3 linked regions of the Homo sapiens genome follow. The protein of the gene in region 1 binds, or shares a complex with, the protein of each later gene. Each region holds a gene or a part of one and is shown in the gene's direction. Other genes may lie near its edges. The genes, in order: POLR3F, POLR3K and POLR3D.

The links.
Region 2: POLR3F (region 1) and POLR3K share a complex: the UniProt entries of both Homo sapiens proteins name them as parts of the RNA polymerase III complex.
Region 3: POLR3F (region 1) and POLR3D share a complex: the UniProt entries of both Homo sapiens proteins name them as parts of the RNA polymerase III complex.

What each region holds. Positions count from the first base shown.
Region 1 is NC_000020.11:18,473,792-18,477,446, forward strand, and holds part of POLR3F (DNA-directed RNA polymerase III subunit RPC6), read left to right. Parts: intron 1-1,283; coding exon 1,284-1,396; intron 1,397-3,655. UniProt on the Homo sapiens protein: DNA-dependent RNA polymerase catalyzes the transcription of DNA into RNA using the four ribonucleoside triphosphates as substrates.
Region 2 is NC_000016.10:45,795-48,300, reverse strand, and holds the end of POLR3K (DNA-directed RNA polymerase III subunit RPC10), read left to right. Parts: intron 1-743; coding exon 744-871; 3' UTR 872-1,894; downstream 1,895-2,506. UniProt on the Homo sapiens protein: Core component of RNA polymerase III (Pol III) which synthesizes small non-coding RNAs using the four ribonucleoside triphosphates as substrates. Can mediate Pol I proofreading of the nascent RNA transcript.
Region 3 is NC_000008.11:22,243,740-22,247,961, forward strand, and holds the start of POLR3D (DNA-directed RNA polymerase III subunit RPC4), read left to right. Parts: upstream 1-1,393; 5' UTR 1,394-1,444; intron 1,445-1,705; 5' UTR 1,706-1,710; coding exon 1,711-1,875; intron 1,876-3,481; coding exon 3,482-3,525; intron 3,526-4,117; coding exon 4,118-4,222. UniProt on the Homo sapiens protein: DNA-dependent RNA polymerase catalyzes the transcription of DNA into RNA using the four ribonucleoside triphosphates as substrates.

The sequences.
Region 1 (3,655 bases):
TTAAACTTTGTGAGCTTCAGTTTCTTTATCTTATCTATAAATTGTGGATGCTGACACCTCTCGTTTTTGCAAGGACCAAAAGGAAAGCTGGTGTGGTGTAGCAGTGTCTTAACAGATGTCCCTCCGCAGCTATAGTTTCTCTTCTACCCGCTTGAAGAACTGTATCTAAATTGCAATCCTAAGTTACAATAATTTGGGATCTATTTGAGTCATTGATATTAGCTGGAAAAATTGAGATGTAATCTGAAATTACATAACTAATTCTTATATTTATTAAAATTAACATTTTTAAAAATAGTCCTATGAGAAAGCCATTCTGCATATTTTTTTAATCTTCCTATCTCATATGCCATTACATTGGGAAGAAAATAAAGCAAAATATTTACATACATTCCCTTTCCATATATAACACTTATTTCCTTCTTTGAAAAAGAAATCATTGCTTCTCACACAGGGCTTTTAGCAGCCATAAGAACCCTAGGCTTCCTTTTCCATCTCACAAATACAATGTTGTATAAATAATGGATTACATGCATGCAGACACTCATCTAAAGAGTGTTTTTGTCCCACTTGAGGATGGCAGTTGACCTTGACCCAAATTTAAGTTTGTATTTCACATTTACAATCTAAAATGAAAGTATCAGAAAACAGAGATAAGGGTACAGATGATAAAATTCCATTGCATCCATGATTTTTCCTTCCATTATAAAAACGTCGTTTTCATAATTTTTTTTTTCTTTTTTTTGAGATGGAGTCTTGCTCTGTTGCCCAGGCTGGAGTGCAATGGTGTGATCTCGGCTCAGTGCAACCTCCGCCTCCCGGGTTCAAACGAGTCTCATGCCTCAGCCTCCCGAGTAGCTAGGACTACAGGTGCATGCCATCAGGCCCGGCTAATTATTTTTGTATTTTTAGTAGGGACAGAGTTTCACCATGTTGGCCAGGCTGGTCTCAAACTCCTGAGCTCAGGTGACCCACCTGCCTCGGCCTCCCTAAGTGCTGGGATTACAGGCATGAGCCACCATGCCCAGCCCTTTCCATAAGTTTTTTAAAAGTTTGCCACACTGGGATTCCAAGAAATTTCTAGTTAGAAATTATAAATCATTATAATAAGTCTTACAAAGCATTATACTTATTTATTGTTTAGCATACTTTTGCTACTTTAGCCAGCATTCTTTACTGTTAGCTTTATACTGCTAGCTTTGGAATGAGACACAAGTTAGAGGAATAACATTAAAAATCCATGAAAACCAGAGTTCAACTTATTTTACTTTACTTTCTTATAGGAATATGGAGCAGAGATATCCGCTATAAAAGTAATTTGCCATTAACAGAAATCAACAAAATTCTGAAGAATCTGGAAAGTAAAAAGCTTATCAAAGCTGTTAAGTCTGTAGCAGTGAGTAGTCCTTTCCTCAGATACCCACTTACATATGTTGCTTCAAGTTTTTATTCTTGAAGTTATGTCATGATTTAGAACAGCTGGTCAAAAAAGACTTAAAAATTTAGCTCATGTTGGATTGGTTTGGAGATGCTGCTTAGACTTGTCCCTACACAGTTAGCTCTTGGTGTCTCACTCACCCACTCAAAAATCTAAAACTACTTTACTGTCTTCAGTGAAGAATCTTTGGAACTGTGAACATTTTTCCTAGATTTTGTGGTGTGTAAGATAATTTACTTTATCCCGACATATTAGCTTTCTCATTCAACAAAGAGTGTTTGCTGTGTGCCAGACACTGTTTTGAGTGCTTGGGATACATTAATGAACAAGTCGTAGAAAGATCCCTGCCTTGGTGGAGCTTCTCTTCTAGTACACGTGTGTTTTTCCTGCTCCTCATCCTGCCCCACCCCTGCTCCAGAGCTGGCTCCCTCGGGGACATCTGCCCCTGACCTCACTGATTTAGACATCAGAGGAACTGAGATTCCCCTAGAATAAAGTTTGCTTCAATACACATTTCATAAGAATTACAGCTATAATTCAAATTTTATAATTTCAGAGCTGTTAGGTCTGTGGCAGTGAGTAGACCTTTCCTCAAATATCCGCTTACATATGTTGCTTCAAGTTTTTATTTTTGAATAAAACAAGAATTATAAGAATTATAACATCACTTATAAGAATTTGATGCTTATTAGTGATTTTATTTATCAGAATAGCATTTCCCTTCCACATTGTTTAATGGATAATTTCAAATATATACAAAGGTAGAAAAAATCATATAATAAAACCCTATCATGTAGCCTCATTTTGTCAGTCCTCCTTCTACATCTTTATGTTTAATAACAGCTCTGCTGAAATATAATTCATCATTCATACTACAGAATTCATTCAACCTTTTAAAGTGTAAAATCTTTGGATTTACAGTCACTGGTTTTTACTATAAGCTAAGAGTTGTGCAACCATCACCGCTGTTCTAATTTTAGAACATTTTCATCACCCCCAAATGTGGCCACTAGTATTTGTTTCCCAGCCTCTCTTTCCATAGGCCCTAAAAACGAATAATTTATTTTCTGCCTTTATTATAGATTTGCCTATTCTGGACAGTTCCTATAAATGGAATAATAGAATATGTAGTCTTTTATGTATGACTACTTTGACTTAGCATGATGTTTTCAAGATTTATCCATATTGTGCTTTATTCCTTCTTATTGCCAATTAAAATTCCATTGTATAGATGTATATCACCTTTTGTTCATTCATCCGTTGGTGAACTTCTGTGTCCTTTTAAGGGTTAAAATAATCTTAGATCTCAGTGTAAAGTGCAAAACTATAAAACTTTTTGAAGAAAACATAGAAAATCTACATGACCTTGGCTTTGTTAATGAATTCTTGGACTATAACTCCAATAGTAGTCTATGAAAGAAAATGTTAATAAGTTGGAGTTTATCAAAATTTTTTGAAAACCTCTGCTTTGCAAGACACATTAAGAGAATGAAAAGACAAGTTACATACTAAAAGATATTTGCAAATCACATATTTGATAAAGGACTTGTCTCCAAAATATACAAAGAACTCCTAAAATTCAGCAATAAGAAAACAACACTTTGGGAGGCCAAGGCGGGTGGATCACCTGAGGTCAGGAGTTCAAGTCTAGCCTCACCAACATGGTGAAACCCTGTCTCTACTAAAAATACAAAATTATCCAGGCGTGGTGGCACATGTCTGTAATCCCAGCTACTTGGGAGGCTGAGGCAGGAGAATTGCTTGAACCCAGGAGGCAGAGGTTGCAGTGAGCAAGATTGCACCATTGTACTCCAGCCTGGGCAACAAAAGCGAAACTCCATCTCAAAAAAAGAAAAAAAAAAAAAAACACACAATGAAAACAAATAATCCAACTAAAAATGAGCAAAAGATCTGAACCTCACCAAAGAAGACATACAGATGGCAGATAAGCATATGAAAAGATGCTCTACATTATTTTTCATTAGAGAACTGCAAATTAAAATAAAATTTAGTATAGTGAGATACCACTACACACCTATTAGAATAGCTAAAATCTAAAAATTGGTAATACCATATGCTGACAAGATACAGACCAAGATGAACACTCATACATTGCTAAGAATGCAAAATTTTCAGTCCTTTTGTTAAAAAACTGGGCAGTTTTTACAAAACTAAACAGAGTCTTACCACATTGTCCAAAGGTCAAGCTCTTAAGTA
Region 2 (2,506 bases), on another chromosome or scaffold:
CCCTTAGTGTTACAGCGTGGTGGGAATGACATCACTGTTTGTAGATCTACCCTTGTCAAGGGGGATCAAATGAGCAGGGAGGTTCTTTACCATCTTTAAAGATATTAAGTAGTCTGGGCACGGTGGCTCATGCCTGTAATCCCAGCACTTTGGGAGGTTGAGGTGGGCGGATCATGAGGTCAGGAGTTCGAGACCAGCCTGGCCAACATAGTGAAAACCTGTCTCTACTAAAAATACAAAAAAATTAGCCGGGTGTGGTGGCGGGCAACTGTAATCCCAGCTACTTGGGAGGCTGAGGCAAGGAGAATCACATGAACCCGGGAGGCAGAGGTTGCAGTGAGCTGAGATCGCCCCACTGCACTCCAGCCTGGGTGACTGCGAGATTCCATCTCAAAAAAAAAAAAAAAAGATATTATAGTAATACCTACTTTTTTTTTTTTTTTTTTTTTTTGAGTGCAGTGGCACGATCTTGGCTCACTGCAATCTCTGCCTCCTGGGTTCAAGCGATTCTCCTGCCTCAGCCTCCCAAGTAGCTGGGATTAAAGGCGCCCGCCACCACGCCTGGCTAATTTTGTATTTTTAGTAGAGATGGGGTTTCACCATGTTGGCCAGGATGGTCTCGAACTCCTGACCTCAGGTGATCCGCCCGCCTTGGCCTCCCACATATTAAGTAATACCTACTTTTGACAGCCATGAGTAGCATCTTTTTTTAAATGTGGTCACTTCTTTTTTCTCATTGCCAGAGTCGTGTCCCAAATGCGAACATCCTCGTGCTTACTTCATGCAGCTTCAGACCCGCTCTGCAGATGAGCCGATGACCACCTTCTACAAGTGCTGCAATGCTCAGTGTGGACACCGCTGGAGGGATTAGGGCCAGGATGGCCCAGCTGCCCTAGTGTGTGCTTGCCTTGTCCCTCGGGGTAGATGCTTAGCTGGCAGTATGAGTTGTGTGTCCTGAGGGTCTTTGCTAGTGTGGTGGAAAGATAAACCTTTTGAGGTGAAGAGCCAGGGGGTCAGGAAATATGGCCTATCTGCCAGGCAGGGTGGATGAAGTCATGAATGTCTGGGAGTTTTTCTGTGTGGGGAGGAGACAGAGACCCATAACTAAATATGCTCTGTGTAAAGTCCTATTCTTTCATCTTCCACTTTATTGGCAGTTGACATTCCCTTACTCCCAATCAACACTCTTAAATATTTGTACTGTTTGTAAAACTTAGTACATGTCCCTAAATATTTAACTGTTACTTGTAAACTTGTGTAATTTATTATTTATTTTAATCAAAATTCTGAATATTTCATTTAAATGAAAGTTGGAATATTGCCTTCTCAGTGTTTTAAATAGCTTAAGAGGTAGAAAGCAAACCCCAAATCACAGTGATCCCAGAATAGACTACATACTTACATTTGAACAGGCTACGAAAATGTTAATCACCGGGATTTCAATTTCTTTCTTTATTCCTATTCTTACTCCCTTATTCATTTTTTTGAACCTCCCCTGATTTGCTTCCTCGGGTTGCTTTAAATGTATAAGATACTATTTATTTATTTATTTATTTTATTTATTTATTTATTTATTTAAGACAGAGTCTTGTTCTGTCGCCCAGGCTGGAGTGCAGTGGTACGAATTCAGCTCACTGCAACCTCTGCCTTCCGGGTTCAAGGGATTCTCCTGTCTCAGCCTCCCAAGCAGCTGGGACTACAGGCATGCACCACCACACCTGGGTAATTTTGCATTTTTAGTAGAGATGGGGTTTCTCCATGTTGGTCGGGCTGGTCTCCAACTCCTGACCTCAGATAATCTGTCTGCCTCGGCCTCCTAAAGTGCTGGGATTACAGGCGTGAGCCACTGTGTCCCACCAATCTTTACATTTAATATGACTATTTTCTTATTGTTTGAACATGTTGATCAGTTCCTGATCACAATATGGGGCCTATCCTATATGGGTCCTAGAGTGGTTGGATTTTATTTTTTAACCTAAACACAGACCCTAGGTTTGAAAGGGTGTACTGGGTCTGTTAGACTTATAGGCATTTTTTTTTTTTTTAATACTTAGCCATGCATCTCTTGCATTGTCACTCCTTTAGGAGTGCATCTGTCTTCTAAGGGTTAGCTCTCCTAACTCTTTTAAATCCCCTCTAATTTGATTAATGATTGGGGGCAGCCTTCTGAACAATATTTCACGGGACGAATACCCAGTTTGTTTGGTGGGGGTGTACCTGACTTGGAGGAGGACCATGGGCGAGACCCGATCTTATTTTAGATGAGTTTCTTGACAAAATTTTTTCAGCAGCTGTTTGAGTGTCTGGTTCGTGCACTGTACTTGAGCTCTGTGGCCTGTAGGATGTACGCAATTTCCACTTTATTTTTAATAGTCTAGTTAAGTCCTGAACTCTTGCAGCCACAAATGTTGGTCCATTGTCTGATCTCAGAGGCAGTCCAAATCTGGGAATAACGTCTCCTAACAACACCTGAGTCACTTCTAGTGCCTTCTCTGTCCAGATGGAG
Region 3 (4,222 bases), on another chromosome or scaffold:
TCAAATGTACCAGACATTCACTGCAGCATTATTTAAAACAGGGAAAAAAGAAACAATCAGGGAAATACTTAAATCATGATACAGCCACTGGAGAACTACGCAGTCTTTGATGTCGCAACAGAGAAATGTTATTTGAAAAAGGAGGATACAGGCCAGGCGTGGTGGCTGATGCCTGTAATCCCAGCACATTGGGAGGCCGAAGCGGGTGGGATCACTTGACCTCAGGAGTTCAAGACCAGCCTGGGCAACATAGTGAAACCCCGTCTCTACGAAAAATACAAAAAAAAAAAAAAAAAAAAAAAGAAAAAGAAAAAATTAGCCGGGCGTGGTGGCATGCACTTGTAGTCCCAGCTACTCAGGAGGCTGAGGTGGAAGCATGGCTTGAGCCTGGGAGGCAGAGGTTGCGGTGTGTTGATCGCACCACTGCACTCCCGTCTGGGCAACAGAGAGAAACCTCGTCTCAAAAAAAAAAAAAAGAAAGAAAAGAAAAGAAAAAGGACACGAAATTGTGATACGACAACTCTGTGAAGACTACTAGATACATTACAAAATTTTTAATAGTAGTACTCTACGTGGCATTCTGGTAGAAATGATTTCCTTTCCTCAAACTCCCCATAATATTGTTACATGGTTTTTATACGGTCTGGGGGATGGGGGATAACATTAAATGACACCTTTTATGTTAAATCACAAACGCTGGAGTCAACAAAAGTTCTTTAAATTCCTCCAGCAGTAGAGCAAACTTGGTATTCCAATTCCCTCCAGGCTTTGACCAAGAGCGCACACGAGGGCCACCGCCTTCGTGATCAGAAGCGGGTATGACTGGGCACCGGTTGGTCCACTGCGGCTGTTCCAAGCTGCCCCCACAGCCTCACCCCAGGACTCCACCAGGAGCACAGGGAAGGGGTCCCCGAAAGTGGGCGAGGTCGCTGCCCGGAGGTAATGACCACTCCAAGGTCACCATGGAGAACCCGCAGACAGGGCTCGGTGTGGCCCAGGACTCCCCGACTCTTAAGTCCAGGTCTCACTCTCTGCGCCGCGCCGCGCCCCTCGCCCCATCCCGAGCAGCTACCCCGAAGCTCCCAGGGGCTCCGCCGAGGCGAATCCTCACATTGCGGCGTGGTGGCCGACAAAACCCGGGACCCTGATCTTGGCGCCTCCACGCCACCGCCCGGAGGCCAAGACCCCCGAGCGCCGCAGCATAGCGTAGCCCAGACCAGTCACCTCATCCTTTTTCGCCCTCTCAACCCAGCTTTTCCCGACTCCGGGAAGAACCGGGAAGAGAAGGCGGAGGGGAGCGAAGCGCCGCCTGATAAATACTGTGGCCCAGTCCCGCCCCCCTAACGTCACTTCCGCCCCGCGCCAAGATGGCGGCGCCCAGGCCCTGCCACGCAGACTTCCGCCCGGCGCGGAGACCGAAGGCTGGCGGCTGGTCGCGTTGCAGGTGAGGTTGTGACGCGCGGTGTGGAGCCGCGGCCCGGGTGCGTCCCTGTCTGGTTCCTGGGCGGGGTTCCTGGAGAGGGCGTGTCGCGAGCCAAAGGCTCTCACCTGGGTGGTCCCGGGAGTCTCGCCACGTGGGAGGGGAGGAGCTGAGAGGCCACTGGAGGGACGCACCGACTGGGGGACCGGAAAGCAAGGGGGTGGGGTTCCGCCAGGGTCCGCGTGTCAGTCCCCTCTGGTGATCTCGTCGCCCCTTCTCTCCCAGGCAACATGTCGGAAGGAAACGCCGCCGGCGAGCCCAGCACGCCGGGAGGGCCCCGACCTCTCCTGACTGGGGCCCGGGGGCTCATCGGGCGGCGGCCGGCGCCTCCCCTCACCCCCGGCCGCCTTCCCTCCATCCGTTCCAGGGACCTCACCCTCGGGGGAGTCAAGAAGGTACCCAACGGCGCGTTTCTAAAGAAACTCAACTACCTTGAATTCCAAGCCCCAGGATTCAACTAATGTTTGTGTAGGACCTACTGTGTGTCAGGACTGTCGTTGGGCCTCTCAAGCCTACCCCTCTTTAAATTCTAGGGAGTCTGTCCTACCTTCAAATCTAGGTACTGAGTACAAGATGTTGAAATGACTCCCAGAGGTGGTTGAAGGGCAGAGAATCCTAATAAGTTAAAGTCGTTCAAAAGCAATTTGAACAGTGTTTATTTACTTTTATTGTGTGTTTGGACATCTTTAAGAAACCCATGAAAGCCAGACAGGCATAAACTTCGCAGTCTTAGAGGGTTCAGAATTCACCATCTCTGTGTGCAAACTTTTTATCTAGAGTATGATGAATCCTAGGTATGGCATTCGAGGCTCTGTGGCCTCTCCCATGTGTATATGACTGTGGATGTCAAGAGTAGCCCAGAAAGGGGTGGGGTCAGGATGACAGAAGAACAAAGCAGGTTTTGGTTTTGGTTTTGGTTTTTTTTGAGAGGAAGTCTCGCCGTTGTCCCCCAGGCTGGAGTGCAATGGCACGATCTCAGCTCACTGCAACCTCTGCCTCCCAGGTTTGAGCGATTCTCCTGCCTCATCCTCCTGAGTAGCTGGGATTACAGGCGCCCGCCACCATGCCCAGCTGATTTTTGTATTTTTAGTAGACACAGGGTTTTGCCATGTTGGCCAGGCTGTTCTTGAACCCCTGACCTCGTGATCCGCCCGCCTGCCTCGACCTCCCAAGGTGCTGGGATTACAGGTGTGAGCCACCGCTCCTGGCCGAATAAAGCGGTTTTTTGGTTTTTTGTTTTGTTTTTAAGGGAATCTCTTTCTGTCGCCCAGGCTGGAGTGCAGAGGCACCATCTCAGCTCACTGCAACCTCCGCCTCCCGGGTTCAAGCGATTCTCCTGCCTCAGCCTCCCGAGTAGCTGGGATTACAGGGGCCCGCCACCGCGCCCAGCTACTTTTTGTAGTTTTTAGTAGAGACGGGTTTCACCATCTTGGCCAGGCTGATCTTGAACTCCTGACCTCGTGATCCACCCACCTTGGCCTCCCAAAGTGCTGGGATTACAGGCATGAGCCACAACGCCCAGCCATAAAGCAGTTTTTAAAAACCTAACTTTGCCTTGGAAAATTGTGGTGACAGTCCATAGTCACCTGATTGAAAGTGTTGGCAGATCTATGGCCTTCCCTACTTAGGCCTTGCTGCTAGAGCTGTTCCCCCATGATACTGACTGGTCTCTATAGCAGTTTGAAGAGAAGAGGTGAGACCAGAGAAATTCCTTTGCTTTTAGAAGTCCCAGAGGATCTTCTTTCAGAGGCAGAACCTAAGGCTGCTGGTTAAAAGTGGGTTTTGGTGCCCCCTTCTATGTGTAACTCCACTGCTACCACACTATGACATTCCTCCTTTTCAGGCACATGTGTATCTATAAAACTGACAGCACTGTGGAATGTGCCAACGAGAGCCGTGGTGGCCTTGGTCTGTAGAAGATGCCCTTTGGGAATTTTTATTTTCCTCTGTACTTTGGGGTCAGAACCTAACACATCAGTGACTCCTGTATTTTGCTTTCAGAAAACCTTCACCCCAAATATCATCAGTCGGAAGATCAAGGAAGAGTAAGTAGCTAGGCCTTCTGAATACTTGCCCCTTATTTACTTGCTCTGAATTTGGGGCTTTGGGGGAAATAACTAGGTTTGTAGCTCCAAAATTTAAATTTATATCTTTAGTTCTTTTCACTAGTGATTTTCAACCCTGGCTCCTAGGTGATTCTGCAAGCTTTAAAAAATAAATAAATAAATAAATAATTACTGGTGTCTAGGGTTCCATCTTTAGAAATTGTGATTTAACTTGCTGGCAGTAGAATGGAGTGATTCTCTTTGTTGCCCGAGTTGAGAGCCAATAGTTTAAACAAAGATGTATCACACTTTCCCTGAAGTTCCTTTGCATTTCTGCCTTCCTGCTTTCAGTCCCAATGCAAACAAAAATCTATATTTTTGGACAAGAAGGTAAAGTAAAGCAAACTGAAAAAATCCTGCCTCATCAAGGAAGTGAGAAAAGTGCTAGAATTAGGATTGGATTCTGCTTCTCATGGTGTAAATATTGGCTCAAACTCTCCACTGTTTTGGAGTGAAGTGGTATGGGAGAGTAAGGCCAGATTTTGGAGACACAGTGAGTGAGTGGTTTCCCTTAATCCATTCTTTTTTCCAGGCCCAAGGAAGAAGTAACTGTCAAGAAGGAGAAGCGTGAAAGGGACAGAGACCGACAACGAGAGGGGCATGGACGAGGGCGAGGCCGTCCAGAAGTGATCCAGTC